3 separate regions of the Homo sapiens genome follow, and regions 1 and 3 are each linked to region 2. The links come from fine-mapping of genetic effects on gene expression. A gene starts in region 2. Each other region holds a variant in brackets. All regions are shown on one strand. Distances are between the middles of the regions.

Region 1 (10,237 bases), 930 kb before region 2:
CAGGAGATCAAGGCTACAACAAGCTGAGATCATACCACTGCACTCCATCCTGGGCAATAGAATGAGACCCTGTCCCCGTCAAAAAAGCAAAAACATTAAAACAAAACAAATAAACAACAAACAAACAAAAAACCCAAATAGAATGAACCCAAATAGATGAACCTGGATTTATAAACCAGCTCTGTCACTTACCAATCTGTATGACTTTAGACAAGTCCTTTAAGCTCAGTTGTACAATGGGAACAAGGGTAGTACCTACTCAGGATGATTTGGGGGAGCAGGGTTGAAGGATGGTTTGGAGGAGCAGGGTTGAAAGCAAAGGGCCCAGTTAGAAGACTACGCAAAATCCAAGTCAGAGATGATGCTTGGGAAAAGGTGTGCATCGGTCAGGGCTTGAAGAGAAAAACAGAACTGGTAGAAGATGTATGTAAGAGATTTATTGCAAAGAATTGGCCGACATGACTGTTGGGGGCTGGCTAGGTAAGCCCAAAACCTGCAGGGCAGACCACTGGAAAGGACAGGCTGGAACTCCTAGGTGTGGGGTGGAGCTGCTGCCCACAGATAGACATTTGTCTTCCTCAGGGAAGCCTCAGCTCTGTTCTCAAGGCCTTTCAACTGATCAAATCAGGCCTACACCAATATCTAGGGTGATTTACCTTACTTTGAGTCCACTGATTATGGACTACACATCTACAAAATATCCACCTAGATTTGTGCTTGATGGAGTTACTGGGGACTGCAGCCTAGCCAAGTTGACACATAAAATGACCACTCCAAAGCGCTTTGTCCATTCTCCGTATAACAGAGACCCTAATAATTTAGAACAAGACTTATTAGAGGGGCTCTTTGGCTGTGCCTTGATGTTGGTCACAATAGCATAGCAAGCTCCAACTGGCTGGTTGTCAGTCACTACCTAAAGTAGCAAGGAGCCAACTGAGGGAGCATGGGTGGCTTGTTACTCATTTGCCCAAAAGTCCATAGAAGAATTTCATGGCCCCAGGCAGAAGCTGCAAAGAACTGAGCTCCCTGTTGCCACAGGTGTAACATGAGGGTACTGATACCCACTTCAGAGGGTGTTTTTGAGGATTAAATGAGCTAGAAATGACTTGTAAACTGCAGCTATACATATGTATCAGAGTTTCTGATCGAGACTATAAAATAATTTATACGTATCTGTCTCCAGGTCTAAATGTCTTCACTTATAAGACTAGTGTTCCTCACTTATTACCAATCAGCTTTAGCTTTGTTAATAAACTAGATTTCAACAATGTAATAATAAAGCTCAACCTTAAAAAGCATGAATCAGTATTTTAGAAAGTTATGCGAAGCTATTTCAAGAAGTGTGGTAGGAATGACATTTATGTGACTTGTTTCATACATAATCTTGGAAAACGCCTACTTATCTTCTCACATGTAACCGAAATGTTGCGTCCTTGGTGAAGGCTGCCCTAATGTGCCCAGGCCTGGTTATGGGCCTCATCACAGGGTGACCACTGATGACGGATGTCCAGAGACAGACTTAGCCACTTGCAGCCTACCTCAGCTGTCACCACCTAACATGCACCTCCAAACGCCATCCCCAAATCCTACAGTCCTGCCTGTTAGTGTATTTAGAGCCCCTTTCTGCTTGGTGAGTGGGATGAAGGGGGTCTGGAAACCTGGTCCTATCACACCTGGTGTCTGTTGTCCCTGAGGACCTGAGCCCCTGGATTGAGCTGAAGCTCCTTTCCTCCAATGGGTGAGCCACCATGCTTTAGGCACTATGCTAAATGCTGTACATGAATCATTTCAGCTAACATTTATAGATTTACTGCCTCTTACATTTTAGCCACTTTCCTAAGAACTTCATATATATTAATTTACATAACCATCATAACTCTATGAGTAGGTACTATCCTTGTTCCCATTGTACAATTGAGCTTAAAAGACTTGTCCAAAGTCATACAGATTGGTAAGTGACAGAGCTGGTTTATAAATCCGGGTTCTTCTAACTCCATGGCCAATGTCCTTAGCCATGACCCCATATAGCCTCCACAAAACAGCCTAGATAGTCCTGTCTCTATTTCACTCTGCCACCTGCCCCTCCTACACACACACACACACACACACACACACACACAAACAAAAAAACAAAAAAACAAACAAAAAAAAAACACTTTCAGGCACCTGAGATATTACTGTAGTTTGGAGTCTGTGGTAACCTTAACTTTGCAGTTTGGGCTCCTGAGTCCTCTCAAGTAACCCGGTTAATTCCTCAGTTAATTCCTAATCTTCTGTTTGCCTGTCTTACTCTCTCACCCCCCTCCATCAGTCCTCCAGCAGACATAGAATTAAAAAAAAAAACAAAACTGAAGAGCCAAGTCCACTTTCCTGTGACCATCGATCCAGGCTTCTATTCACTCATGGATCCCACCGCACCATCTATATCTGATGGTGCATCTGTCTCTTCACTGGCCTGTTCACTCCTTTCGGGCAAAGATTGGATCTTACTTACCTTTCTCTCCTCAGATCCCAACTCAGAGGACTCAATGAAAGGGTGAGTTATCTGCAACATTAGTGGGAAACCTCTGCTCAGGCACGAGGTGGAAATAGGGCCAGTGGGAAAAATTAAGGGGATTAGAGGGGGGCAGATAAACCTCATGGCTGCTGGCTGAGTGGAGATTGGAGAGTGGCAGTTTGCATTTCCACTGAGAGCTGGGGACTTAGGGAGCTGAGGAATTCATATCAGGGCTATGGTTCTTCCCAGAATCAGCTATGCAATGATGTTGACAGGGCCGGCCCCCTGATTCTGTCGAAGCATCATTGTCCGGATTTCTCTGCCATTTGCATTTATTGAATTTCACTCTTATTTCCAGGGAAAGCATGACAAAGATACAAATGGTAGCACCTTAACCAGTTTAGAGGAAGGTCATGAGGGAAAGAGAACAAAAGGGAAGAAGGCGAGGGGGCAAGAAGAAAGGAAGGAGAAGAGAGAAGAGGAGATGGGGAAAAAGCAAAAGCATGGGGGAAGGGAGAGAGAATATTTCAAACTGACTTCAAGAGGCTTTGTGGTGTGGATGTTAAGAAATCACAGATTAGAGGGTTCTAAAAGAATCTCTACCATCTGTCTTCAGAGTCTCAATTTTGCCCCTGTAAAATGGGCAGTAACAAACTTGCCCTTCACGCTAAACTTTGCCATGAAGAAGGATTTAGGCATGATCTCAAGAATGTGGTGCATTCCTTCCCAAGAATGTCACGAGTCTTGGTGAGTTGTTTTGCAAGATTTGGGACAGCTTAATACTGAGATGGAGAAATAGTTAATTTGCCAGACTTCCAGGAAGGCTGTGGAAGGCAGAGCAGCCTCACAGGGCTCTTGATTCGAGAGGCAATTGGAACAGGGCTAACTGGACCATCCCTCCCAGTGGGGCTGCATGTTTAGGTCAAGGTCTCTTGGCAGGAGCAGCAGGTTTGAATGAAAGCAGGGCTTGAGGGAGTGCACTAGAACAGCAGTATGCAGTCTTTGGTCCCTTAAAAATTATGGAAGACCCTGGCCGGGTGCAGTGGCTCATACCTCTAATCCCAGCACTTTGGGAGGCCAAGGCGGGCGGATAACGAGGTCAAGAGATCGAGATCATCCTGGCCAACATGATGAAACCCCGTATTTACTAAAATACAAAAATTAGCTGGGCATGGCGGCGAGCGCCTGTAGTCCCAGCTACTTGGGAGGCTGAGGCAGGAGAATTGCTTGTACCTGGGAGGCAGAGGTTGCAGCGAGCCGAGATTGCACCACTGCACTCCAGCCTGGCAATAGAGCAAGACTCCGTCTCAAAAAAAAAATTGTGGAAGACTCCAAAAACTTTTATGTTTTTTTAAACCCATTGGTTTTAAAAAAATATATTGGTAATTCAAACTGAGGACATTTTAAGATACCAGAATGCGCAAGCACACATTTCATTGGCCCTCCAATCAGTGACATCATCAGGCATCAGGTAGATGCTGGAGAACTTCTCTGTGCACTTGACAGAGCATGAGAGTGGAAAATGCAAACCACATTTGGCGTGGTTATGAAAACAGTTTAGATCTCTCAGACACCTGTGTACTCCCTGGCCCACCCTGTGAGAACCTCTGAACTACAGACGTGGCAGAATGTTACACCAGATGGAAATCCTGCTGTAACTCTTCAAGACCTCAGACAAGGCGGTGACCTCATGTGATCACAACTGCGATTGGATTTCTTGAGCTATGTGTACCAGTTAATGTGCAAACAAGTCAGAATGATTCACTCAGCCAGAGGCACAAAACTAGAGGGCTCCAGAGAGAAGTACAGTCAGGAATTTGGGGAAATCACAGAAAGGGCCCTGGATCCACGTGAGGTATGAAATTTGAGGATTTGGATCCACTTCGTCTAAATCTGCCAGAAGCAGAAATGCCCTGTGTATCATCTAGGTTCAAACTTGTTGCTGTAAGTTCAAAAATATAACTCTTCCCAAAGGCCTTGAGCCTATAGCAGCATCTGCACTCCCCTTATGAGGTCAGCGTCTGTGCTCAGCCCTACCAGCCCCCTCCCCTTTCCCAGTGCTAGAGAAAACATAAAGCCACTGCAATCAAAATGAAATGTCAAATTTTTAAAAACCCGAGGAACAGCTGTAATTTGCAAGGAGACAGAATGCAATTAGCATACACTTGTCAGAACGGGAGATGGCTCTGTGAGCCCTTTATTGCCTTAGTTTTATTAAGACTGGACTGATTATTACAGTTTCATTTGCTGTTTGCCCCATTAATGGCCAAAGCAGAACAATAAACAGGAAGGCAGTGGAGAGCGTTTAGGAGCAGCATGCCATGCCCTTGAGGGTCTTCATGGAGGTGAGAGAGGAACCAGGTACCTGCGTGTGATTTTGTTTGGAGAAAGGGGAAATGAGGGCCTCAGCAAGGATCCTTCAACCTCTAGTCTACCAGCACTTTTTGTAACTTTTGCTTCCTGGATCGCAGTGCTTTGGGATAGAGGCCAAGAAAATCAGGGCAGAAAGTAAACAATCACAGTGTTAACCTGGTAATCTAGATGAGGCCCTGTGGGGAGATGGGAAATTAGAGTTCCCTAGGCATGTCCCAGGGTGGTCTTTAAATTATTCTGCCGGGGCACTATTCTCTGCTAGGGGACATTTGTCTGCAATCGCTGCTGCCTGCTGGGCCTCTACCCCTGCTCTTACCTGACCTTGCACTGGGGGTTGTTCCCTGAACCCCAGTCCTGCTCTGATTGCCACTGCAGGAGTTTCTGCAGCCCTTGAATCAGACTCAGCCTCCCTGGGTGGGAGGCAGTGGGGTTGCCCCCCAGTCTGTCATCTGTGCTCACAGTCCTGCTGGAGTCTCTTCCGTGGGCTCCATTAAAGGACATGGAGCCTGCTCATTGAGTGAGCGCAACCTGAAGATACGACCGAAGAACAGTTTTATTTTTGCTCCCATTCTTCTTTTAAAATTTATTCAGTGAGGCCCATTTTTTCCCTTGCCTGAGGATGAAATGTCTGTGTCAGGCAGGCCCCATAATTTTCTCCCGGCTTTAAGGTAATAAAAAGATCTCTGGTCACTTTAAACCGCAAATAGTCTCAATTCAGTAATTAAAATGGTCTATTCCTAGATAATAAAAATTCTGGACTTGTTTTAATGCCAGCTAAAGGGGTCCTTTACAGTGGAGAAGCAGCGGGGTCTTTGGCTTCCCAGCCCAGTGTTTCTCCTTCTCTGCCAG[C/G]TGACCTGGGAGTTTCCGAGGTTTCTGACCCTTTCAGGGTTTGACTGGTAGAAGGTGGGGTAGGAGGAAGAGGGAGTGTCTCCAGGAAGCAGACATAGGTCTGTAGGCTGAGGCTTCCTCTCTGGACACCTTCTTCCAGCCTCATGAAGACCCCTTAACCTCCAGTTTTGCAGCACTATCTGCCACACAGCAGAATCAACTCACTGGAATATCTTTGCCCAGGTTCAGATTGCTTCTTAGAAAATCTGGGTGGCTGCAGGACAGTGCACTGTCCTTGCTGAGAAAGTGGGGCTCAGTTTGTCCTGCTGAGGTAGGGATTCCCATCTCTGCCTACATTGTTCTGTCTGTTTTGCTTTCTCAGGCTGACAGGCACTGCCTCTCACTTGAGATTCCACAGTAGTTTGTGTGGGAGTCAGACATCAGTTTAAGTGTTCCCACCACTCCAGGGGCCACATTGTGGGGCCTCTATGGGTCCCATTAATGGTACTTCTATAGCTGCAGGTGAAGGAGGTAATATAGACCACCATCACTGGCTTTTTGTTTTTCAACTCTAGTCACTCTTTAACTCTCTCTTGCATATTTTCATCTTGATCAGAGGTCCTGCTGAGAGGTCTAAGGATTGTGAAATTTGTTCTCAGCCTCTTCACTTTGGTAGGCAGCATCAATTATGTTGAAATTGCCTTTTTAACATCCTGTAATGACACTCATTGGATGCCCAGTGGCTGCACTCTCTCCTTCTGGGAATGGTGCTTGGGCAGGTTTGGGAAGCTGCTCTACCTCCCTCCTCAGCCATGTGGCTTGACAGAGAGGTGGCCCCATCCCAGCTCCAGCAGTGGGTCCTGATGGGTGTAGGCCAATCAGCATATTCTCTCCCTCTAACCACAGGGATTGACTCAGCCATGGGCACCTCCTATGGCTTGAATGTGTTCCCTCAGAAGCATGTGTTGGAAATTTACTCCCCATTGCAACAGTATTGGGAGGTAAGGCCTAATGGGAGGTATTAAGGTAATAAGGGCTCTACTCTCATGAATGGATTAATGCTGATTACAAACTATAAAAGGGCTTGAGATTGAGAGTTCAATCTCTTGTTCTCTTGACCTCTCTTTGCTTTTCTGCCATAGGACGATGCAGCAGCAAGGGCTTTGCCAGATGCTGGCCCCTCAGTCTTGGACTTCCCAGCCCCTAGAATCATGAGACAATACATTTCTATTCATTATAAATTATCTAGCCTCAGGTATTATGTTATAGCAGCACAAGGTGGATCTAGGCAAAAAATTGGTACTGGAGAAGTTGGTGTTGCTATGATAAATACCTGAAAATGTGAACATGGCTTTGGAGCTGGGTAATGGGCAGAGGCTGGGAGAGTTTGGAGGAGCAGGCTAGAAAAACCCTGTATTGCAGTGAATGGAGCATTAAAGGGGATTCTGGTAAGGACTCAGAAAAAAGAAGAACTGGAAGAAAAATCTGGAACTTCTTAGAGATTACTTAAGTGGCTATGATCAGAATGTTGGTAGAAATATGAACAGCAAAGGCCATTCCGATGAGGTCTCAGATGGAAAAGAGGAATATCGTATTGGAAACTGGAGTAAAGGCCTTCCTTGTTATGAAGTGGCAAAGAACTTGGTTGAATTGTGTCTATGCCCCAGGGCTTTATGGAGGGCAGAATTTAAGAGCGATGAACTAGAGTATCTGGTGGAAAAAATTTCTAAGCAAAATATTTAAGAAGCTGCATGGCTTCTTTTAACTGCATGCAATAAAATGAGAGAGATGATTTAAAGAGAGAATTTATAATTAAAAGGAAACAGAACTTAGGGATTTGAAGGATGCTCAGTTTGGTCATGTGATAGAGAATGAAAGAGCATTTTCAGGAGAGAAAACCAACGCTGTGGCCAAGCCACTGACTGATAACAAGATTAGTATGCATAAAATGAAGCCAGAGGCTATTCTTCAAGACAATGGAAGAACAAACCATAAGGTACTTTGTAGATTACTAGTGCTGTTCTTCCTACCAGAGGCCCAGAATGCCAAAGTCAAATGACTTCTGGTGGTAGCAGAGAAATAAGCTATACCTTATAGCCTAGGTGTGTAGTAACTGGACCATCTCGGTCTGTGCAAGTACACTCTATGATGTTCACACAATGACAAAATTGCCTAATAAAATATTTCTCAGAACTTAGCCCTGAATTAAGTGATGTATGACTGTATGCCAAAAAAGAGGCCTAGGGCACCCTGGGGACCTTGAGGCTCACTGTCCAGAGCTGCCTCAAGTCTCTGCTCCTGAAATTTTGGCAAAATGCTCCCAGGTCACTCCAGGTGTGGCTCAAGGGGGGTCAGGTGTGGCTCAGGCCACAGTTTCAGATGAAGCAAACAGCAAATCTTGGGTAGCATCCATGTGGTGTTAAGTCTGCAGGTGTGCAAATGCAAAAGCTGTGGAGCACAGTTTCTTCCATGTAGGTTTCAAAGGATATCTCAGGCAGCCTGGATGCTCAGGCAGAGACTCATCCCAGGGGTGGAGTCACTGCAGGGAGTCCCATGAGGGCAATGCTTAGTGGAGTCATGAGGATGGGATCACCCCCAAAACTCCAGAACTGTAGAGCTACCAGCATGCAACACCAGCCTGGGAGAGTGGCAGATACCTGACTTTAGCCAGTAAGAGCTGCTATATGGGCTGAGCTTGGTAAAGCTATAGGGGCAGGGCTGTTGGAGTCCTTGTGGACTCAACCCCCATGTCAGTGTGCCCAGAGGTGGAACATGGAATCAAGGAAGATTATTCTGGAGCCCCAAGATTTAATGTTATTTGTCTTTTGGGGTTTTGGACTTACTTGGGACTAGTTGTCCTTGTCTTCTTGCCTATTTCCCCCTTTTGGAGTGGGAATGTCTATTCTATGCTTGTCTCACCATTATTTTGGAAGTAGGTAACTCTCTTGGTTTCACAGGCTCACAGTTGGAAGGAAATTTGCCTTAGTATGAATCCTGCCTTGAGTCTTACCTGTATCTGATTTAGATAAGACTCTGACTTTGGACTTTTGAGTTGATGTTGGAATGAGTTAAGACTTCTGGGGCTATGAGATGGAATGAATATATTTTATATGTAAGAAGGACATAAATCTTGGGGGCCAGATGTGAAATGATATGGTTTGAATGTATCCCCCAAAAGCATATATTGGAAACTTAATCCTCAATGTAACAGTATTGGGAGGTGGGGCCTAATGGGAGGCGTTTAGGTCATGAGGGCTCCACATTCATAAATAGATTAATGCTAGTTATGAATTATAAAAGAGGATAACGCTGCAAGTTCAATCTCTTGTTCTCTCTTGTTCTCTCTTTGCCCTTCTGCCATGGAGGATGCAGCAGCAAGGCCCTTGCCAGATGCTGACCCCTCACTTTTGGACTTCCCAGGCTCCAGAACCATGAGCCAATAAATTTCTATTCATTATAAATTACCCAGTCTCAGGTATTATGTTATGGCAGCACAAAGTGGACTAGGACAGCACCCAAACAATCAGCACAGAGAGAGGCGAGGAAACATGCTGAGGATTTTGCGTGGGAAGATGCAGTCTCTGTTCTGTGGGAATGACCAAAAAAAGACCACTTCTCTTCCCCTAGGCAGTCAGGTCTAGGGGAGACTGTGAGGTCTGCAATTTTGATGGCCATTTTACTGACACAAGGGGAGAGTGTGGAGCTACCAGGGTCCACCATGTGTACCCTGAAGATGAGCCAAGACCACAGCCTTCTGTGGTCTTGGCTTATCTGTGCCTTGATCATGAGAAATCAGGTCCTGGTGACATCAATTGAGTCACCAGGTCAGGTCTCCTAAAGCTAGTTTTCAACTGGGGGGGATTTTGCTCCTTCTCCCCAAGGGGACATTTAACAATATCTGGAGGCATTTTTGATTGTCATAACTTGGGAGGTGGGGGAGGTGCTACTGACATCTAGTGGGTAGAGATCAGGGATGCTGCCAAATATCCTACAGTACACAGGACAGCTCCCAAAACAAAGAATCATCCAGCCCAAAATGTCAGTAGCAATGAGGTTAAAAAACCATGCTCTAACACCAAAACTGTATCTGGACTTTTCAATCATATGAGCCAATGTGTTTATTTTATTTGTTTTAATATGCAGTTGGTTTTCCTACGATTTGCAGTTGAAAGAATCCTGACTGACAGTTCCTAAAACAGGACACCTTCTCATTCCCAAGTTCCCTCCTCAGAGCCTCACCTAAGGCCTGCAGGCCCCTCCCAGGAATCACCGTTCTTGACATAGTCACTGTTTCTGCCTCCTTGGTAGACACTTTTCAGAAATAGTGTCCTCCACTCCAGGAATCCCCATGAAAAATCCCATCTTCTCAAGTCTTAAAGATACTTGGATGAAAGCATTTACAATTTTGCCCAAAAATTTCAAGATCACAATTTAAAAATTTTAGTATGAACTATTTCAGACCTACAGAATAAGTGCTCACCATCCTGCTTAAGAAATACATCCCTTTTCCTAATAGCACTTTCCTTTCCCTCCTCAAGA
Region 2 (10,237 bases):
TAATTTTCTTACCCACTAGATCATTAGCTTCCCAAGAGACCTAGCACAGTGCTCAGCACATATAGGAAGTACTCAATAAATAATAAAGTCACGAATGATTGACTAATGATGATGGTGTGTCATTAAGCAAGGATTGCAATTAATCCCTTTCTGTGCACACTAGATAAAAAATAAATGACCTTCGCGCTCATGCCAAAAGGAATTCCTTTCTCTTTTATTTCCATGTCTCTGTGACACTTACCACTTTCTACACTGTATGAGACATTGTATGAGAAGGATGTGCGTATCTATGTGTGTCCCAGAGGAGATTACAGCCTCTCTGATGGCACCCATGCTGGGTTATTTGAAAAAATGAGCTCTCTGTGTCATCCCAACAAGTCTGGGTGACATAAAAAATGCCCACTCAAAGGAGATCATTAGCTGCTTCCAAGTGGGAATGACACAACTGAATTGAGAATGGAGAGATGGTGGTATTTTTCATTTTGGGCAATCTGACTGGACTGAAGAGAAACAAGACAAGGGTAATAAAAATTAAAGTCTTGCCCTAAAGGCCTCCATATGCTTAGGAAGAGGCTTAAAGCACAACTCATGGCTACCTGGCAGCTTCCTACTCATCCTTCAACCACCAGCTCAAATGTCACCTCCTTTGATAGGAGTTCCTTGACATGCCCTTTTCATGTCCTGCCCTCCAAGAATTGCCTCCCTGATCCTATATCACCAAAGCAATTGGTACATACCTCTAATATAGGTATTATCCTACACTATTGTAGTTACCTGTTACTATATCTGACACCCACATTATACTATATTACTAGAATCAGTATTGTATGTTACTAATTTCTGTATCCACAGTGCTCAACCCAGTATCTGATAAATAGCAGGGCCATTAAAAAGTTTTATTACCATGTATTAAAATGATAAACCTGGCGTATCAAAAGCCTAATGGGATACAGATATTCCATAATTTATATTAAACTAAACTATTTCTGTCTACCTACATTACTGCTATAAGCACTCAGAGAGATCACATATGTAGAAAGATTTTGCCTTTCATGAAATTTCTTTTTGAACCTAAAGAATTCGCCTTTCATGAAATTTCTTTTTGAACCACAACCTTATTGATGCATGAGTTCAAACACATTTCTGTCACCCTCTCACACAAGGAGCAATTCATCAATCATTTATAGAGTACCAGCTATACCCTGTTTGGAAGCTACAGATCTACCAGTAGCTGGGACTGACAGTCCCTACCTTCAATAAAATTACAGTCTAGTGAGACAGACAGTCAATAAGCAAGCAAAGACATTTGCGTTCCTGCACAAACAGGACACTACAACAAAATAGGCAATTAGCAGTCACACCAGGCCCAAAGCTCAGAGTCTCAGATAATAGGTATTTTCTCCTGGAAAGACTTGAAAGTCCCAAAGGTTTGTTTCAAATAGAAATCGGAAAGCCCCAGGGACCACATATCACCATAACCTTTTTTTTCTAAGGAACCATAACCGTAACTTTCTAAGGAAGTTAGACCGAAGTATGGATAGCAGGCTATTGTGGGGAGAGGGAGGCCAACAGAGTCGGCCAACAGCCGGGTGACTTCACACAGAAGTGAACAAGGGAAAATGGACCGGGGCATTCCTCAGTTCCGAGATGACCAGGAATATCGAGCCTCATTAGGACCAGCAATTTCTAAGAGTACCCCTTTACTGAGTGCCCACAAGGTGCCAGGCACAGTGCTGTGTTCCACATTCATAATCTCACTGAAGCCTCCAGGCAGCAACTGGAGTCTCATTAGGTGTTGAGCTGCATTTCACTGATCTGTAACTTCCACTGCAAAGATCAGAAAGAGAGAAAGAGGGCCGGGCGCGGTGGCTCACGCCTGTAATCCCAGCACTTTGGGAGGCCGAGGCAGGGAGATCACAAGGTCAGGAGTTCGAGACCAGCCTGGCCAACATGGTGAAACCCTGTCTCTACTAAAAATACAAAAAAAAAAAAAAAATAGCCAAGCGTGGTGGCTCGTACCTGTAATCCCAGCTACTCGGGAGGCTGAGGCAGGAGAATTGCTTAAACCCAGGAGGCGGAGGTTGCAGTGAGCTGAGATCGTGCCACTGCACTCCAGCCTGGGCAACAGAGCACGACTCTGTCTCAGAAAAAGAAGAAAAAAAAAAGAAAGAGAGAAAGAGCATGATTTAAATAGTGCAGCCAGTTGCGTTCACTATCTGTTCGAGAATAAGCATGTGGTGGTGGCACCTAGGACTTCGCTATTCACCAGGTTGGTCTTGATTCCCTCGTGCCTCTCTTTCCACTAAGTGTGAGTAAAGTGTCTTTCATACCGCACAGTCCCTAATACAAGCGAATTCTCATCTAATGTTCAAACAAGAAAGCCCAGCTGTGCTGATTAGTTTATTTATTGAAAGGCAGCGTGTTAGTTTCTGAAACGGCTCCTTGCCAAAGGATTTTCAAACTAACTGTGATTTTTGGCTAAAGTGATTTTCACCCTTAGAATATTATTATCTGATAAGGTATGACTGCACTATATCCTCAATTACCTAAAGGGAAACTGAGTGTTTATGAAGATTCACTTAAGGTTACACAACTAGCAAGTGGTAGAGTTAGGGTCTAAGCCGAGATCCCTTTTCTCCAATCATTTTTCTTAACCATGTCTTATAGCCTCCTCTATGTGTGCTAGTCATCCAAACTCTTAAGATGACAGTACGGGAGAATGGAAAGAACATTAAGGCAGGAGTGAGCAGACTGGGGTTCTAGTTCCACTCCTGCCACTAATCAGCTGTGTTACTTTGGACAAGTTATGTAGCCCCTGTGGCTGCCTAGCTAGGCTGCAGCTTACAGCCTGATCTTACTCAGCAGTTGCCCTAGGTTCCCCAATTAGTATGATGGGGTAGAGCAAGGGAGAAGGGAGACTAGAGTCAGTGGCTACAAGTTTAAATGGGTATAAGGACCTAGCAATGTAAATGAGTCAATGACTGAAATGAACTGGGTGGGCACTACAGCCAACTATAGAGTGCCAGGGGAACATATGCCCAGAATATTCCTAAGCCTGCTGATTTTTCCAAAAGAAACTAGCACTCTGGATTTTTAAATGTTGGTAACCAACTCAAAATTTTTTCACACACTATGAGATTAAATAAAGCATGATGGTGGACTTCATTCAGCATGGGCTGTCGCTTTGCCACTTAGATTCAGCTAAGTGATCTCAAAGCTCTCTTCCAATATCCAGAAAGACCTAGAAAGAGTACAGAGCCTCCCAGGTCATGAGGGATAAGTGCTGACTGCCATCAAAATCAAGATGTCTTTACAAACACAGGGAAGCTGAGGGGCATCTTGACTCCTAGGGCAGTAAGTATGAACGTGGTCATGAGGAGCCCACTCAGTGAAAAGGGAAGAGAAGATGCTCTCCAGTTCCACAGGAAAGGCCAAGACTGGTCTGTGACCTCCAAAGAGAAAAAACTGGGAACTCTTAAAGGCTGTCAGGCCCATTTGGCTGACAGTCCAAGCTATGGCTTAAAGCAGTCTGACCTGACCTCACACATAAGGGCTTAAGCCAGGGAGAGCAAATAGGTTTCATTTAAAGCAGAAACTTCAATCAACTGGAAGTGGCTGCCTAGAGTAGTGTGCTGAGGGCTCTGAGTACAGTGTGAATATGTGCTGAGAACCAACCAATTAGCCATGACTGCCAGGGACACAGGAAGGGGCACTGGCAGCACACATTCCATGTATTTGTCACCCCTGGCTTAAACTCCCATTGGCAATGAATCAGCTTCAGCTTCCAGCAGATAGCCTTGCCAGGCAGAGGAAGACTAAAGCTCCTGCCCTGGAAATCCACTGGCAATAGAAGTCTTCAAGGCTGGTATAGCAAAGCTTACCCTGCATGGTCTTCATTCACACATACATACATCAAGTATTTACTGCTTTACATCAAGTGTTTACTGCTCTAGACTGGGCAATGGGGAAACAGAGGTGATTGAGACACTGTTCCTGTCCTGGAGATGTTCACAGTCTAATGGAAGAGACACACACTTCACAGATAATTATGATCAAATGTGGTAATAGGAGAAGTTATGGGAGCTGAGGGTTGGGGGTGACTTAATTTGCTTAAGGGAATTGAGCAAAGTAAGAGTTGAAATTTTTTTAAGTTAAAGAAGTTCTCTTGGCAAAGAAGGTGAAGGGCAAGGAGAGAATATTCTAAGCTGAGAGAACAGCATATATAATGATGGAAAACCAAATGGCCTACCCAGGAAACGAGGAAAACCTTGACAGCCCTGGAGTGTGAGGTGCATGAAGATTAGGCTGCAAAAGGAGTTTATGAAGGACAAGGTGTTTGGACTTTACAGGTGCTGGGTGCCAATGAAAGTTTTCAAGCAGAAGGCATAATCAGATTTGTAGGTGAAACAGATCACACTAGGTGCAATGTGTGTGTTCATGCTGGGAAACTGAAAAGGCTTCTGCGAAAACCCTACAAGAAAGAGGCCGACTGAAAAGATATTAAAGAAATTAAAGATCGGAAGATCCTTGGACGTGGAAGAATGCAAGAGGAATCAGTGGGTAAGTAGGTAGGTAGGTAGGTAAATGGGATGATCGTGCCACTGACTTCCATAAGACATAAGGAAAGAAGTGCAGGTTTGGGGCAGAACACAATAGCCAGTCCCATCCACTGGGTTCCAGAGGTAACAATCATTAGGGAGGTAACAAATTAGATATGCTTGTTCTAGATGGGAAGGTAGAGATTGAAACACTATTTTTAAGGTCGGGCTTCAAGCTCAGGCCCTCTTCACTTCTTGCCAGGGCCCCAGACCCTCTATCCTTTCCTCTGTGGTCTCCAGACCTTTCTATGACTCTCCCACCTCCAAAACCTCCCTCAACCCCCTCACCTTCAGACCCTTCTAAGGCCCTCCTCATTCCCAGGGCCCTCTATCGCCTCCTCATCCCCGACCCCTGTATGACCCTTCCCATCTCCGGCCTCTACATCCTTTGACCGTCCCTCACCCTCCACCCCCACATATAAGCTTCTTTCTCCCCTCTCACCTTCCCCAGCCCCCTGTGTCACCACCACCTCCTAAGTCTCCAGCCCAGAGCCTGCGTCTCAGCTGCCCCCGCCCCGCCACCCGGACTCACCCACCGAGACACCCACTTCACAACAGGGCGGAAGTGCTCCCGGGCTCGTGCGGGGAATGCTGGGACGCGGAGTCCGAGCGGCGCCACCCTGGGAATGGAACGTCTGAGACCACAATTCCCAGAAGGAACCGCGCGAGCGCCGGGGGCGGCCCCCTCCGTTTGCTGCCTTTCAGACGTCTTCAGCCAATAGATATGTCATCTTCTAACGGACCCTGGCACTGGAACAAATCGGAACGGGCGCGACACATGGGGGCGGGACCTGTTGCGATCCTGGCCTTTTCCATAGGCTTCCGGATAACAGCACCGCCCAATGGGAGGGCACTCGAGCAGAAGGGGGCCCAGTTCTACTGAGGGGTCGAAGTGAGAGCCTCAGACCCTGAAAGATCAAAGCAGACACAATAAGAAATAAGAAGAGAGAATGACTAGAGGTGACCAGCCCGATAGGCAGGAGAGAACTGGACAGTTGTAGCTTTAATTTCCAGCTTACAGCTAAGCTGTGTGACTTTGGAAGAATTCTGAACCTCGTTCTCTTCAACCATAAAATGAGGGTAGTAATGGCATCCATGTCACAGAGTTTTGTGAACTTTCAATGAGATAATACACCTAAAACGATTAGCTCAGGGCCTGGCTCCTAATAATGCACAGCGATTGTTAGCTATTATTATGTAAATCAGTTAGTACAGAGCTTGGCACTTCCTAGGTGTTGGAAGAATGTTAATCATTATTACAAAATAATCCTCATATAAATGCGGGTGCTCTGTACCACTGTGAATACTTTGGGGCATGAACAATCTAATGTGGTGTTGAGAATGGGGGCTTTGTAGTCAGACATGGATCCAAATCCCAACTCAACTACTTCGCAGCTGTGTGGCCTTGAACAAATTACTGCCATCTATTTTGTCTTTGGAATTTTCATCTATAAAATGCAAGTAATGTAAGAGAACTTACATCACAGGGTGTTATGAAGGTTAAATGAGACTATTTAGGTAAAAGTCTCTGAAGTCAAGCTGCTTGTGTCTGAAAGTTCTTACTTTCAAATGAAGGATGCAGGTCATACCACCCGCGTTGTGAAACCTTGGGCAAATTACTTAGCTTCTTTATGCCTGCATTTTCCCAGCTGTAAAATGGGAATGATAATACTTGCCTCTTCCTGAGACAGTTGTTGAGAGGAATAAATGGGAGAAGGTATGTAAAGAGCGTGACACATGTCTGACACACAGAAAGTGTTTAATAATCATTAGCTAGTCCAGGCACGGAGGCTCATGCCTGTAATCCCAGCCCTCTGGGAGGCTGAGACGGAAGGATCGCTTTAGTCCAGGAGTTTGAGACCAGCCTGGGCAGCGAAGTGAGACCTCGTCTCTATTTTAAAAAATAGAAAATACAATAATATACATAATCATTAGCTATTATTATTATTACCAATGGTTATGCGGCTTAGGGAAAATTGACAATACCTAGCATCTGGTAAGAGCTCAATGCATGTTGGCTAGTGTTAAAATAGGAGAATTCTTAGCTTTAACGACCCAGTTTAAATTCCTTCTCTGTGAAACATGTTCCAACTTATTTGTAGTAATAACTCATGTGATTTTACTCAGTAAACATAATAACAACCCGTAAATACTCCTTGGTGTTGAAGTCTCACAGTAGCCCTATGAGATTGGTATTGTTTGCTCCACTTTACAAAGAGGGAATGAGACTTAGAGAAACGAAGTGACCTACTCAAGATCACAGAGCCAATAAGAACCAGGGCTGCGATTTGTCACCCCCTAGGCATGTGACTCCAAAGGTCCTACACTGCATGAGGAAGAGACCATATGTGGAAGTAGGAGGGTTTGAGATGGGGAGGGACAGTGCAACAGTGTGGGGTGCCAAGGGAGCCGGAAACATTTGAGAGAGTGTCAGGATCTGAAGCTGGAGAGGCAGCTTTGCAGGGTCAGGTAAGGACGTGTCCACTTCAGCATCATCTGCCCTAAGAGGAAGAAGGGAGGCGAGTGTGCAGAGAGAGGAGAGGACATCATTAGGACACAAGAGGGCGCGCCTCGCCCTCAATACAGCCTCGAATTATTCTATGGTTTCCCTTAGCCTTTGTCTAATTAAAGCCTGGCATTCTACAGAAGAGAAAAAACTAACGAAGTCCTCAAGAGGCCAACTGCCCTTTAGTGCCGTGTAGAAATAAGCAACAGAGCCTGAACCTGTTCCAGGTTCTCTCTGGTTCAGCACCCATCAGGATTTGGTTTGCAAGCGTTCTGTCTGCATTTGTCTACCAGGACTCTCTCTGATTTGGGCAGACACTAGGCTCTAAGGATGCAGAGATGAAGCAAACCTGGTCTCTGACCCCAGGGCCTGATCTCTAAACTTTCCCAATAGAGCGCTCCCATAAGTGAAGCCTTTTTGAGTTTTTGAGTTGAGCACACACTCCCAACATATGTGTATTTATTTACTTATAAATGATGTGCCTGTAATAGCTAACTTTCCTTGAACATTTGCAATGCATTATTAGGTCCTTCTCTCAGTGCTTTATATGTATTAACTCATTTAATACATCCAAAACCCTTTGAGGGAGAGTCTAACACTATCCCATATTACAGAAAAGGAAACTATGGTATAGAGAGGTTAAATAACATGCTAACGGCACGTGGCTAAAAAAGCAGGCAGTCTAGCTTCAGAATAAGGTAAGATTTTTAAAAAATAGAAATAGAAGTTATAACAGTTTCTTTGCAACCATAGTGTGATAATCTTGTGCACTCAGCTTTGGAGACCACTATTTCTGTGGCTTTCAGGCCTGTGATCAGTCCTTTGAGAAAGGGAGGTGCAGGAAATTGTGGGAGCCCAGGGGCAACAGTTATCTAGGCTGGGAGATCAGGAAAGGCTTCTGAAGAAAGTGATGGCTGAACTGCATCTTAAATAATACTTAAGAGTTCCCCAGGGAAAAGGTATTTTTCAGTGCAAGAACAGCATATGCAATGGCCCAGAGACAAAAGGTGTGATGATGTCCTGGGACCCACAGGTAGTCTAGCATAGTCAGAGTACAGAGTGACAAGGGGGTAGGCTTCTCCTCCCAGTGTTGCTATGAGGCTTAACTGGAGATAGATGGGAACAGGCCTTCATGTTTTTTATTGAGGGAACAGGCAATCAGTCTGCTGTCTCCTGGGCAGCATCCCAGCTTTTTGATCCTTAGCTGCCAATCCCTCTATAACCCAGATGGCAAAAGGGGTCCCTTGGCCCCTTGAAGATCTGGTTGAACTTGACCTGGACCCCATTCCACAGCTTAGGACTGGCCAAAGGCTTCTCTCTTTGCCCTCTCTCTCCATGAATTTCCAACCTTATTTCCTCTGGACTACAGTTTCTGTGAATCCAACCCTTTCACCTTCTGCCTCATTGTACTCCAGCCCGGACAACAAGAGCAAAACTGCATCTCAAAAAAAAAAAATTCAATCAAGCCAAGCATTCATGGATTTAGTACATTTATTGAGGGTTTGGAGATCTTGAGATTACATTACGTACCACATGGCCACCTGCCATCTCCCAGATTTTCTTATTCAGCCTCCAGAGCCTTCCCAAAGCCTGTGTTCCCATTTGATTCTCCCTTGCACACACAGTAGCCCCACCTTCTACTAAAAACTGAGTTCAGTCTCATAGCCCACACATACTCACTATCTCCCTGCCAAGCTGGCTTGCTTTTCTTACCCCCACCTTCCAACACACACGCACCCATTCTACCCTACCCCAGGGTGCTCCAGCCTGCTCCCTAACCAAGCCCAGAAGTCATTCTTTCTTTCCTCTTCCTTGGGCCACATGCAATAGTCTCTTCAGCGGAGCAACCAGGCCAATCTGTGGCAGCAAGGGAGCTAGTGGCGTAAGATGGGCTCCAGGAAGACCAGCAGTAGCCCTTGGGGGGTGGGGGACAGCCAGCAGAAAGGAGGTGGCCAGGAGGAGCTCCAGGCATCAGCAGGGGGTGTGCAGGGCCTGGTGACTCAGCACACAGAGCGTGACCCAGCTGCCCACCATGCTGTCTGCTGCATTGTCAGCCACATCCTTGCCTGGCTCAAAATCCCACTCATGGAGGCAGAGTGGCAGCCCCCGGCCAGCTGGAGGGCAGTCCTCTAGAGCAGGCAGCAGCTCCTGCACCATCCAGCCCTGGTCTTGCCTGCAGTGGGACACAAACACGTCATAGAGGAACCTCTTGCCTTTACCCTTCTGACTCCTCAGACTCTGGAACCAAACCCTGAGCAAGGCCTTGAGTTAGAGGATCCAGGAATTCCTGGCTTCCTTTAGGAAGGGCAAGGAGACCAGCAGAAGCAGCAGGGCAGAGCTGCGCAAAAAAGAGCTCCAACCCCAAAGTCTTGGGGCAGTGGCTCCAGAGAAAAGGGAAAAAGAGATTCTTTGAGTGGCCCCCAGCTTCTGAATGGCACAGCTGCTGTGATACTATGTGCATGTATGTTCTGGGGGACTGCTAAAGCCAGGGCCCCACGCAGGCATTGGCACACTGGCAGGCCAAGGATGAGGTCAGAATATAGATGTACTGGGGCATCCGAGGACTGTGCTCCTGGAGGCTGTCATCCAGCATGAAGTCTTTCTCCCTGTCTAGTACTAAGACCTGGAGACTGCCGAGGCCCCCAAAAGCAGCAGCAGACAGTGTCTCCAACCCTGTTTGGGACAGCTGCAGCATATCAAGCCTGGGCAACTCACCCACCAGCTCCTCAAGCCGCACTGGGCAGGGGCATGCTTGAGACTGCAGTGCCTGCAGCTTCAGCTCCTGTAGACTGGGCAGTCCCGTGATGCAGTAGGGCCTAGGGCTATGCCTGTTTCCCCATCCTTCAAGGACTTGAGCTTCGGGAGCTGCCAGAGGAAGAAGCTGGAGGTGTCCTGGGAACAGAGGGGCTCCAACCTACTGCCAAGCAGGGAGAGTTGATGAAGGGCAGGGAAGATCTTGGAGATATTCTGGGTCTCTAGCTGCAGTCCCCAGCCCTTTAAAGTCAGGATCTGCAAGACTGGAAAGACATTAGGAGACAACCTCCAATGCTTCATGCCTGAAACTGCGTGGAGCTCCAAGCTAGTCAGTCTTGTGAGCAGGGAAAATGCTACTCCCGCAGGGCCAAAGGGAAAC
Region 3 (10,237 bases), 100 kb before region 2:
GACCAGCCCATACTCAGTGGGTGGACAGTCTTAAAGAATCCCTGGGTGTAGCTTTCAGGGGAGAGCCAACCAGAGGAAGCTGAGGGCCCCTGGGAGAAGGTGGGTCTTGACTGTCTCAGAGCCCATATCCTCTGCAAAGTCCATCCAACCTCTCCTTTCCCTGGTGCACACGGAGAGGGGTCTGGGTGGCTGCAATGACTGAGTGCCCCAATGTCAGTGACCAGCTCTCTCACCTACTAGCTGTGGGATTATTAGGCAAGGTACTTAACCACTTCAGGCTTCAGTGTCCGCATGATGGAAAAGAAACTTTAAGGTGCCTCTTAGGGCTGAGTTCCTGGCAGCTGCTCACTCAAACAGGAAATATAGCAGTTTGGTAGCATTTCACTATGCTGGTTGCTAAATTAGGAACTGAACGTTATTAAGGAGTTACCCTTTCCTTGATGTTCTAACGTGTTTGGGGATAATGAGTCAGTTGTAATTACAATACATATGCCACGTAGAAAGTGAGTTAATTACATGGCGCAACAATTAGTACTTAATAATTCAGATCGAGTAGATGAGTGTAATTTGCACCTGCGTCTGTCACTGTGACTAAGTATATTTTACAACCGAGATTCTTGTTCCTGAGGGAGGTAACCATGTGGATACAGCACACATAGGACACAGCGGGCAAAGCAGGAGTAGGGAAACAAATTCGGCTTGGAAGGCAGCTATTTAAAACAACCATTTCACCGGCAGACGGATATGATCACCAAGAAAGAGGCCGGGGACCTCACCAGGGGTGGCTGTAAGGGCCCCACACGCGCATCCTGCCTTATCCATCTCTGCCTGGAAGACCCCACCAGGGACTCCTAGGGCAAACAAAGAGAATTATCTGCCTGCTCCTTTGGTCATCCCTCTTTCCTGGCCTCACAGAACTCCCCCTGAGGATCCCTGGCAGGCTTTATAATGTGAGTCCTTTCAGGCTGGGATTTTTTGTTTTGTTTTTTTTGTTTGCTTGTTTTTTGAGACAGAGTCTCACTCTGTCACCCACGCTGGAGTGCAATGGCATGAGCTCATCTCCCTGCAGCCTCCACCTCCTGGGTTCAAGTGATTCTCCTGCCTTAGCCTCCCGAGTAGCTGGGACTACGGGCACGCACCACCACGCCTGGCCAATTTTTATATTGTTAGTAGAGATGAGGTTTCACCATTTTGGCCAGGTTGGTCTTGAACTCCTGGCCTCAAGTGATCCACTGGCCTCAGCCTCACAAAGTGCTGGGATTACTGGCGTGAGCCCAGGCCAGGGTTTTGGTCTGTTTTCTTCACTGTTGTATTGCAAGCACTTAGAACAATATCTGGAAGATAATAGATACTTGATGTCTATTTGTTGAATAAATGAATGAAATAAGTTGAAGCCATATGTGGAGGGGAAATGAGCACTGTAGGGAAATGTGTGTCCCAGGTTGCCACAGGTCAGTCTCAGCACATTCCCCCACACAGCACAAAGAAGGACAATGACCACTTACTGAGCATTGAACAGTGAGTGCCCCATGCTGTGCTGGGGGCTTTATGTACGCAATCTACATATACAGCTTAAATTGCCCAAAAATCTGTGAGGTGGGTATTACCAGTCCCAATTTACAGGCGAGGAAATTGGAGCTGAAGTGATTTGCCCCAAGTTACAGAAACTGGTCAGATCAGAAACGGGACTGGAGCCCAGCCCTCACTAAGGTCAAAGTCCACACCCCCGCAGTCGCAGCTTTCTGGAACCAACCCCATTGGGTTCTACTTTCTAAGTCTGTTTCGGAGCTGAAGGGATTTGAGAGCCTGAACTTAGCCATACACCAGATCTACCTTTGGACCGCAAAAGGGACCCAGTGCTTCATGAAGCTGGTTTTTTTTGTTTTGTTTTGTTTTGTTTCCGTTGTTTTGTTTCGGCTTTACCAACCTGACTGGGTGTTTTTCAATATCCACCATTCAGACTTTCCTCAACAGCAGAGGATGTGGCAGTGGCAAAGACAAGGGGATGGGGGGGAGACGAAAGGGAAAGGGGCCTGCATGAAAGACCATGTCTGTCTTCCTGCTGGTGCCAGTTCCCTGAACCTCATCTTGTTGTTCAGCCCCTTACTGCAGCCTGCCCAGGGCTCCACTCCATGGCTTCATCCTAGGCCAGACCAGCACCCAGCCCGGGGGCTCCATCCACTTTGGCTGCAACGCCGGCTACCGCCTGGTGGGACACAGCATGGCCATCTGTACCCGGCACCCCCAGGGCTACCACCTGTGGAGCGAAGCCATCCCTCTCTGTCAAGGTGAGAAGCAGGTGGAAAGGGGGTCACAAGGTAGCTCGGATCCAACTCATATCTTGGGTTTGTCCCAGGACTAGTCACTTCCAAATGTGGGTTTCCTCTTTGATAATTATTTCATTCTTTCCACAAGCATTTACAAGATCTGTAGTGCGTAGCAATCTCAGTGTTTTGAGATCCATGGGGGAGATGGGTATGTGAGCACATCAATGCAAAGTGGCAGAGGAAGGAAGTGTCGTGTCAGGAGCATAATCAGTGTTGTGGGAGCCCAGAGGTGAGAAAGGATCTGCTTCCTCCTGGCCAGCTGGGGAGGGCTCCCAGCAGAGGGGATGCTTGGGTTCCGGCTCATAGAGCAAGTGGGTTGATCAAACACTTGAAATGTGTCAGTCAATTTGCATGCATTACCTTTTATGATTTATGATTTTATGATTTATGACAGTTTTTTCCCTTCAAGTAATATACATTCAAACTAAAAATCTGAAGAAGAAAAAAAAAAACGGTAGATAATGCAAAAGAAAAAAAGTGAAAATGAACAATAAACCTGAGATCACCACTGTTAACATTTCAGCACATTTCCTTTGGTCTTTTATGTATTGATTATAAAAATAGGATCATCCGTGTACAAAGCTCTTATAGATTTTGTTTCCCATAATGCTGTGCAACCACTGAAAATCATGGTGAGGAAGTATATTTAACTATATACTATTTTTTGAGACAGAGTCTCCCTCTGTCGCCCAGGCTGGAGTCCAGTGGCATGATCTCAGCTCACTGCAACCTCTGCCTCCTGGGTTCAAGCAATTCTCCTGTCTCAGCCTCCCGAGTAGCTGGGATTACAGTCACCCGCCACCATGCCTGGCTAATTTTTGTACTTTTAGTAGAGACAGGGTTTCACCATATTGGTCCGGCTGGTCTCAAACTGCTGACCTCAGGTGATCCGCCCACCTCGGTCTCCCAGAGTGCTGTGATTACAGGTGTGAGCCACCGCGCCTGGACTCTATTGTTAATATTATACTTCGTCACCATTATTTTCAATAGTTGCACAGCATTATGAGAAAATTGTCATTCATTTAAGTATCATTCTCTTGTTGGTCATTTGGATTTCTATATTCTTTGTGACGATAAACTTATAATTCCATCTTTATGAATATTACATATTTCCTTAAGGCAAATTCTCAGAAATGAGATTCTCGCATCATAACGTATGCGATTGACAGCTGTCGATACTGATTGCCTCCCAGAAAGTTTGTCCTCATGTATAGCAGCATGTGAGAACTGTCTTTTCTCCCACAGTCTCAACGTTAGGCACTGCATTTAAAAAAAGAAGAAAACATTGCCAACTACATAGACAAAAACAGGAAATCACATTGCTATTTGATTTTTCCTTTGGTTCCCAGTAGTGGTGAAGTACTTTTTAATGACATCTCTCATCTCTAATCCTCACAACCTTCTCGCCTGTGCCTGTGCTTTCTCAAAGAACAAAAACAATGTGCTATTAATAATCTACTCTACCCCTAAGCAAAGGTCACAGTGAACTGGCTGTCCACAAATGGCAAATGGCATTTGGCTTTGGTCTCTGCGTCTCTAACTGCATTAACAAGGACAAGTCTTTTTTCCGGAGCGCCAGTTGGAACCTACTAAGCCTCTCATTTCTGTTACCTTACATCACCACCCAAAATTAAGCCTCCACCAGACTTCAGTTGACCCATCCCC[A/C]TACTACTGTGCATGTCTTCTCCCCACTGCACCCCTTGCCTCCCACTGATGCCCTTCCTCTAAGCCTCCCACTGTGTTCTCTGGAATCCTAGTTCCGTGGCCAGCAAGCGTACACCCTCAGTCCCTACCCAGCTGGCTGTCTTCACTTCCTCCCTCCATGGAGACCATGGCTGTCCTCTGAGAGCACGTATGCTGTGGCCCTTTCAAGTGGATTGTTAATCCCCCTCCACCCACCTCCTACTTCCCACAGAATTCTGGGCCAGGAAGGGCCTGGCATTATTCCACTTCTCTACTGCTGTTTCCAAACCATGACTTTTCCACTCTTCCTTTAGAGACTCTATGCCTCCTAATGCCTTCTCTCTCCTTCCCCAGCCCACTCTCTCACCTGTGTCTCTCTCCCTCAGAGATCTCATTCCACCACAAGCCTCAAATACTTTGTGATTGTATCCCCTCCTCCTCCTACCCACAGGAAGTGTCCCTCTTACCACCGGGTTTTGGGGACTGCATTTTGGCATGGAGATCATGAGACACAGGCTTTTAGTATCTCAGGCTGGAGTATTATCTTCTGTCCCCTTAGTTATCTACAAGAGCAAGGCCAGGCCAGGGCCTGTGAGAAGTGGCTGCCGCCCACTTCCTTCACTGCCCTCCCTGGATTGACTCTCCATGCAAGACACCAGTGGAGATCCAAGTATTTCTTCCCAAAGGATTTAAGGAAGCTGGGCAGGTAGTTGATGTAATATGACAGCTTAGCTAACCTAGTTCCACTGAAGGAGCTCATAGCCTTTCTGATTAGTCATTAAGAGTCTCATGTTTAAACACTCTCTTATTTCTCATTCCTTCTGTGTTCCTGATCCTCCTCTTCTGGAAAGTCCCACACTTAGATCCTTCTTCCATCTTGGTATTCCAACTTCTCTCCCTCTGAACAGTCTACCCTCCTCCATTCATAATGGAGCCCCAGCCTGATGCCTCTTATTGGTTCTGGAAATTCTTATAGCATCAAGCATCTTGTTAGGCAATCTCAATGGGACTCTGCCCAAGCTTATTCTGGCTCTAAGCGAAAAAGTTCTGAGCTCTAGACTAGTAGCCAGAGGGGATAGTGGATGGAGGCAGTAGTGGGTACTTTGACGGATTAATCTTTCCATCTGTAATACCCCCTGAGCTGTCAAAGAGCAAGGATGATTTATAAGTATTACTTTCTTTCAAAGACCAAACAGTCTACTCTTGCCTAAGTAATTCCTATTCCTCCTATAAACATAATGTCGACCCTACTCCTTATAAAATAATAATCCTGGCCATGTTGCTGCAAACATTTCTCTCCTGAGTTGTCCCTTTGAGATTCCTTTTCTTTGTATTCTTGAGTTAGTTCTGTCATTTTTCATATCTCATATATTGTCCTTTCCTGGTTTTCACCCTCTTTTTCATGGGGTATATCCTTAAGTAAATTCCTCAGAAAGGGTTCACAAGAGGTGCATTTTCTGAGACTTTACATGTCTGAAAGTGTCTATCTTTTTGCCCTCACACATGTTTGGTCAGTTGACTGGGTAAAATTCTAGTTTATAAATCATTTTCTTCAGAGGTTTAAAGCTTTGTTCCATTATCTTTGAACACTCACTGCTGATGGGAAGTCTTATGCCAGTTTGATTCTCGTTCCTTCACAGTTATGTCATTTTTTTTTCCCTCTTTCTAGTAATTTGGAGGAATGCCTGTGTGTCTCTGGACTTCTTAGATACACAAAATTCCGTGATGGTGAATCTAAGAGGGATTCTCTTTGCATTCCTTTGGCTCCCTTTCCATCTGAAGACTTGTGTCTCTCTTCAGCTCTGAGAAATTTTCATCTATGATAATTCCATCCCATCCACTTTTTGTGTTCTCTCTTTTTGGAGCTCTGAACAGTTGGATGCTGGACCTTCTGTATTGAGGATTGATCCGTGTTTTCTGTCATTTTCTCTCATTTTCGGTCTCTTTTTTTTCTATATTCTGAGAAATTTACTTTTCATCTCTAATCCTATAATGCTTATTTCGGCAATCATATTTTTCATTTCAAAGAGTTTGTCCTTGTTTTTTTTTTGTTTGTTTTTTTTTCCTTCAGAGCACACTGATTTTATTTTATGAGTACCGTATGTCACCTTGACTTTCTCAAGATACTACTGATCAGAAGTTTAAAGATTGTGTATCTTCTGTTTTCTAAATTAGCTCTGTTTCCTAAGGGGACATTTATTTTAAACTTTATCTTGGTTTGTCTTGTTCGCACTGCTGATTTTCTTCACATGTATAATGATCCTTGATCGTATTTTAAAAGTAAGGGCCAGGTTGATTTTTCCAGCTATGAGATGTGGATTACGTTTGTTATTTTTATATACAGATATCTTGGTCCACAAAGTCTCTCCTATCAGTGAGAGGTTGAGTTGAGTATGTGGCAGACCTGAGTAGGCAATGGGGCAGCCTTTAGGCCAAGAGACCATAAATCCTAGAATTAAAAGAGCTTTCCTCTGGGATGCCAACTCCCACCATAACAGCCCTAATTCATCCTAAGAGAGATCCCCCCTCAGTGGAAAAGAAAATTCTCTCTTTCGTTTGGAGAGTAGATACTTGAATGTGTCTACACTGTGTTTGTGGGAACAGATGGCGGAGAACTGGTTTCACCCTGAGGCTCCCTCCCATATATTTTGAGCTACAGCTTCTTTGCACTTCTATCTTTATTCCTTCTTCCAAACTTAAAAAAAAAAAGAAGAAAAAACTCTTCTGCTGATGATCCTCCCATTTTCTTTTTTATTATGATACTTTACCCTTTAATTAGTTTTTACTAATAAAAGGACCTTGGGAGGGGAGGAAGGATAAAAATAGTTTCTCAGAATACCATCTTAAAACAAATGCTCATGACATTGTTTTCCTTTTGCTAGCTCTTTCCTGTGGGCTTCCTGAGGCCCCCAAGAATGGAATGGTGTTTGGCAAGGAGTACACAGTGGGAACCAAGGCCATGTACAGCTGCAGTGAAGGCTACCACCTCCAGGCAGGCGCTGAGGCCACTGCAGAGTGTCTGGACACAGGCCTATGGAGCAACCGCAATGTCCCACCACAGTGTGTCCGTGAGTCCTCGGGCAATGGAGGCGGGTGTAAGGAAGGGCTAGGTAGGCAGCTGGAAAGATTCCTGCAAGGAGTGAGCTAAAAGCAAAGTAATGAGGGGGAAAAAAAAAAAAAAACATGGACATGGAGGTTGGAGGATTTCAGAAGAGGAGGCAGGTGCTGAAACTGCTCTCAGCATTGATAACCATTGTGCCCTAAGATGTTTCCACAAACCACCATGGAACTTAGGAATGGCCTGGTCCACTCCCTTTTAGATGGAAAACCTGTCAGAAAGTTTGCATGAATGTCCCTTGATTCCAAAGCTCTAAAAACAACAACTTTTAGGCCAGATCACAAAATGGCAACCTCCTCGACTATGTCCCATCCAAAGACAGAGGTTTTTGTTTTGTTTTGTTTTTTGGCCTACACGGTGCTTTATAACAAATTTTGAATTACTCCACAATCTTTTAAAATCAAGAAATTTTACATTAAAATCCAGATTTCTGTCTTCTCTTGAAAAATGAAAATCTAATCAAATGCAACTCAAACATTCAATAGTCAACCTTGACTGAGTACTATTTCCCTTTTTTAATTTTTAATTTTTTAGCAGAACTGTACTCCCCAGTTTGCCACATCCCCCACCCAACCCACCTGTTCATTTACCAAACCTGCCTGAGAACTGAAGATTCCTGGATTCTTCATTATTGCATTAAGGTCTCCAAGTCCCTAGATCTGGGCTCTTACAAGGTCTTCCAGAATTAATCAAGTAATTAATCCTCCTTTCTTTTCCTCATTTCCCCAGCTGTGACTTGTCCTGATGTCAGTAGCATCAGCGTGGAGCATGGCCGATGGAGGCTTATCTTTGAGACACAGTATCAGTTCCAGGCCCAGCTGATGCTCATCTGTGACCCTGGCTACTACTATACTGGCCAAAGGGTCATCCGCTGTCAGGCCAATGGCAAATGGAGCCTCGGGGACTCTACGCCCACCTGCCGAAGTAAGCCCAGGAAGGGAGGGTGGGCAAGTTTAGCAGGGTCCCTCCTACCTAAGCTGTCTCATGCATGGAGTGAACTGGGGTGGGGGAAAAAGGGGTATCACCAGGGATTGCAGTGTACTGCTTTTTAAACTCTCATCTAGTAGAATCAGGAGCTGGGAAAATGCCTACTCCTTTACTCCTTTAAGGAAGTATTTCTTAGCATCTTCTCATCTTATCAAAAGCTGCTTTTGTCCAGATGAGCATGCACTAATTCATTTCTTTAATATTCTTAGGCTCTTACTATATGCCAGACACTGTAGAGGTTTGAAGATAAAAGATTTTGGTTCCTGCCCACAAGGACTTTATAGTCTACTGGAGAGGCAGACACATAAAGAAGTGATGATAATGTGGTGCGATAAGACCTGAAATGGGAGTGTATATAGGAGGAATGAGGGTAGCACAGGCGACAGGTCACCTAAACCTGCCTGCCTTCTCCATTGTCAATTGTTTTTCTTTGGTTCTTTAATACACTTTCAAAGGTCGGAATCTCTGGGAAGACACTCTGAGACAGAGGCTTATTAGGGGGTGCTCTTGAGAACACCACCTACAGAAGGGAAAGGAGGGAAGGAAGCAGGACTGGGCAGAAGGAGAATTGAGCTCTGATGCAGTATCCATGAAAGCCTTAGCTCACCCCCCAGGGAGCTCTGGATGGCCCTTCAGAATTGTCACAAGTTGGAGCAAGGGAACTGTTATACTGCCACACTGACCAGCCACTGGATGCAGGCTGGCCTAGGAATGGGACATGACCTTCCTAGGTGGGAGGACTCCTCAACCACAGCAATCTGAAAAGGGCTGCCAGCCAAGGGTTGTTTTCCAGCAGCTGGGGAAATAAGTCCCTCGGTCCTAAAAGGGGCTCTGAGTAGCTCATCGCAGCATGCACTACGATAGGGATATGCTCATCATATTTATGTGACCAATGCAGATGTCACAGAGGAGGCAAGTGATTGTAAAGAGGTAGAAGGAAGTGGTCAGTGAGAAGTGGGAGTTTGAAACTGGGAAGGAGGAGAAATGGTGTCTTCCAATGCCTGTGATCCAGGTTGGGCATAGATCCCAGCATTTGAGAGGCTGAAGTGGGTGGATCACTTGAGGTCAGGAGTTCGAGACCAGCCTGGCCGACATGGTGAAACCCTGTCTCTACTAAAAAAAAAAAAAAAAAAAATTAGCCAGCATGGTGGTGCCCACCTGTAATCCCAGCTACTTGGGAGGCTGAGGCAAAAGAATTGTTTGAACCTAGGAGGCAGAGGTTGCAGGGAGCCAAGACTGTGCCACTGCACTCCAGCCTGGACGACTGTGCAAGACTCCGTCTCAAAAAAAAAAAAAAAAAAAGCCAATGTCCGTGATTCATGACACTGTTGTCTTTGCACACTGTGGTGCAGACTGCACAGTGGGATGTAACCACATATGTGGCAGAGTAGTCCCAAGCGTTTGGCAGCCTCACTACAATGCAGCCACTCACATTTCAGTGCAGCCTTGGCGATTAGGCCTCACCTCATACATCAGCCAGAGGCTCTCAGCAGTGCTCTGTTGACAAAGAGTGTGAGGCTGCTGGGCTCAGAAAAGAAGGGCAAGGAAATTGATTAGCAGTGTCTGCCCAGGGCACTCAGGAGCATACCACAGAATCGCCATCTCTTCCTAACCACAGTGCACATCTCAGCCACCTGAGGAGGATTAAAAAAATACACAGGCCAGGGCGCTATCTGCAAAGCTGGTGAGTCAGGCACCTGCAGTGGAGCCGGGCATTTTAAATAACCTTCAGGGGCTTCTGGAGACACCTCCAGTTGAGGTGCCACATCACACAAGTCAGCAACACAACCCATATTCTGGTCAGGAATTCCAGCAGAGTAAGGTTAAACAGGTCTTATTTTTGTCACAGTTCTTGCTAAGCAGAAGCAGCCATGTCCCTCCTCTTGGGGCTGGCTTACTGAGCATCTTGTGATCATTTTAGTCATCTCCTGTGGAGAGCTCCCGATTCCCCCCAATGGCCACCGCATCGGAACACTGTCTGTCTACGGGGCAACAGCCATCTTCTCCTGCAATTCCGGATACACACTGGTGGGCTCCAGGGTGCGTGAGTGCATGGCCAATGGGCTCTGGAGTGGCTCTGAAGTCCGCTGCCTTGGTAAGTGACCTCTGCAGGCCTATCCTG

Which allele goes with the higher level. Positions count from the first base shown, and alleles are read on the strand shown. Sizes are in standard deviations (SD) of each study's normalised expression.
For the expression in monocytes of the gene that starts at base 5,177 in region 2, allele C in region 1 goes with a higher level than allele G (large effect, 2.0 SD a copy in Fairfax 2014).
In carriers of allele C in region 3, the expression in aorta of the gene that starts at base 5,177 in region 2 tends to be higher than with A alone (small effect, 0.25 SD a copy in GTEx).

The links.
Region 1: its variant is fine-mapped to the expression of ZSCAN20 in monocytes (Fairfax 2014, PIP 0.95).
Region 3: its variant is fine-mapped to the expression of ZSCAN20 in aorta (GTEx, PIP 0.95).

The regions. Positions count from the first base shown.
Region 1 is chr1:34,401,311-34,411,547 of GRCh38, reverse strand. No RefSeq gene overlaps it. Among named protein-coding and RNA genes, the nearest start is that of C1orf94, 230 kb to the right of the region's middle. The variant C/G (reference allele first, on the strand shown) is at 5,720.
Region 2 is chr1:33,467,585-33,477,821 of GRCh38, reverse strand. It overlaps ZSCAN20 (zinc finger and SCAN domain containing 20), which reads right to left and starts at 5,177. Exons shown (of 8, transcript NM_001377376.1): 1 at 5,131-5,177. It also overlaps the pseudogene TLR12P. RefSeq lists a silencer at 6,920-7,214 and enhancers at 8,604-9,128, 9,129-9,655.
Region 3 is chr1:33,569,347-33,579,583 of GRCh38, reverse strand. CSMD2 (CUB and Sushi multiple domains 2) reads left to right here. Exons shown (of 71, transcript NM_001281956.2): 49 at 2,100-2,288; 50 at 6,893-7,078; 51 at 7,858-8,052; 52 at 10,037-10,210. Among named protein-coding and RNA genes, the nearest start is that of ZSCAN20, 100 kb to the right of the region's middle. RefSeq lists an enhancer at 5,256-5,425. The variant A/C (reference allele first, on the strand shown) is at 3,993.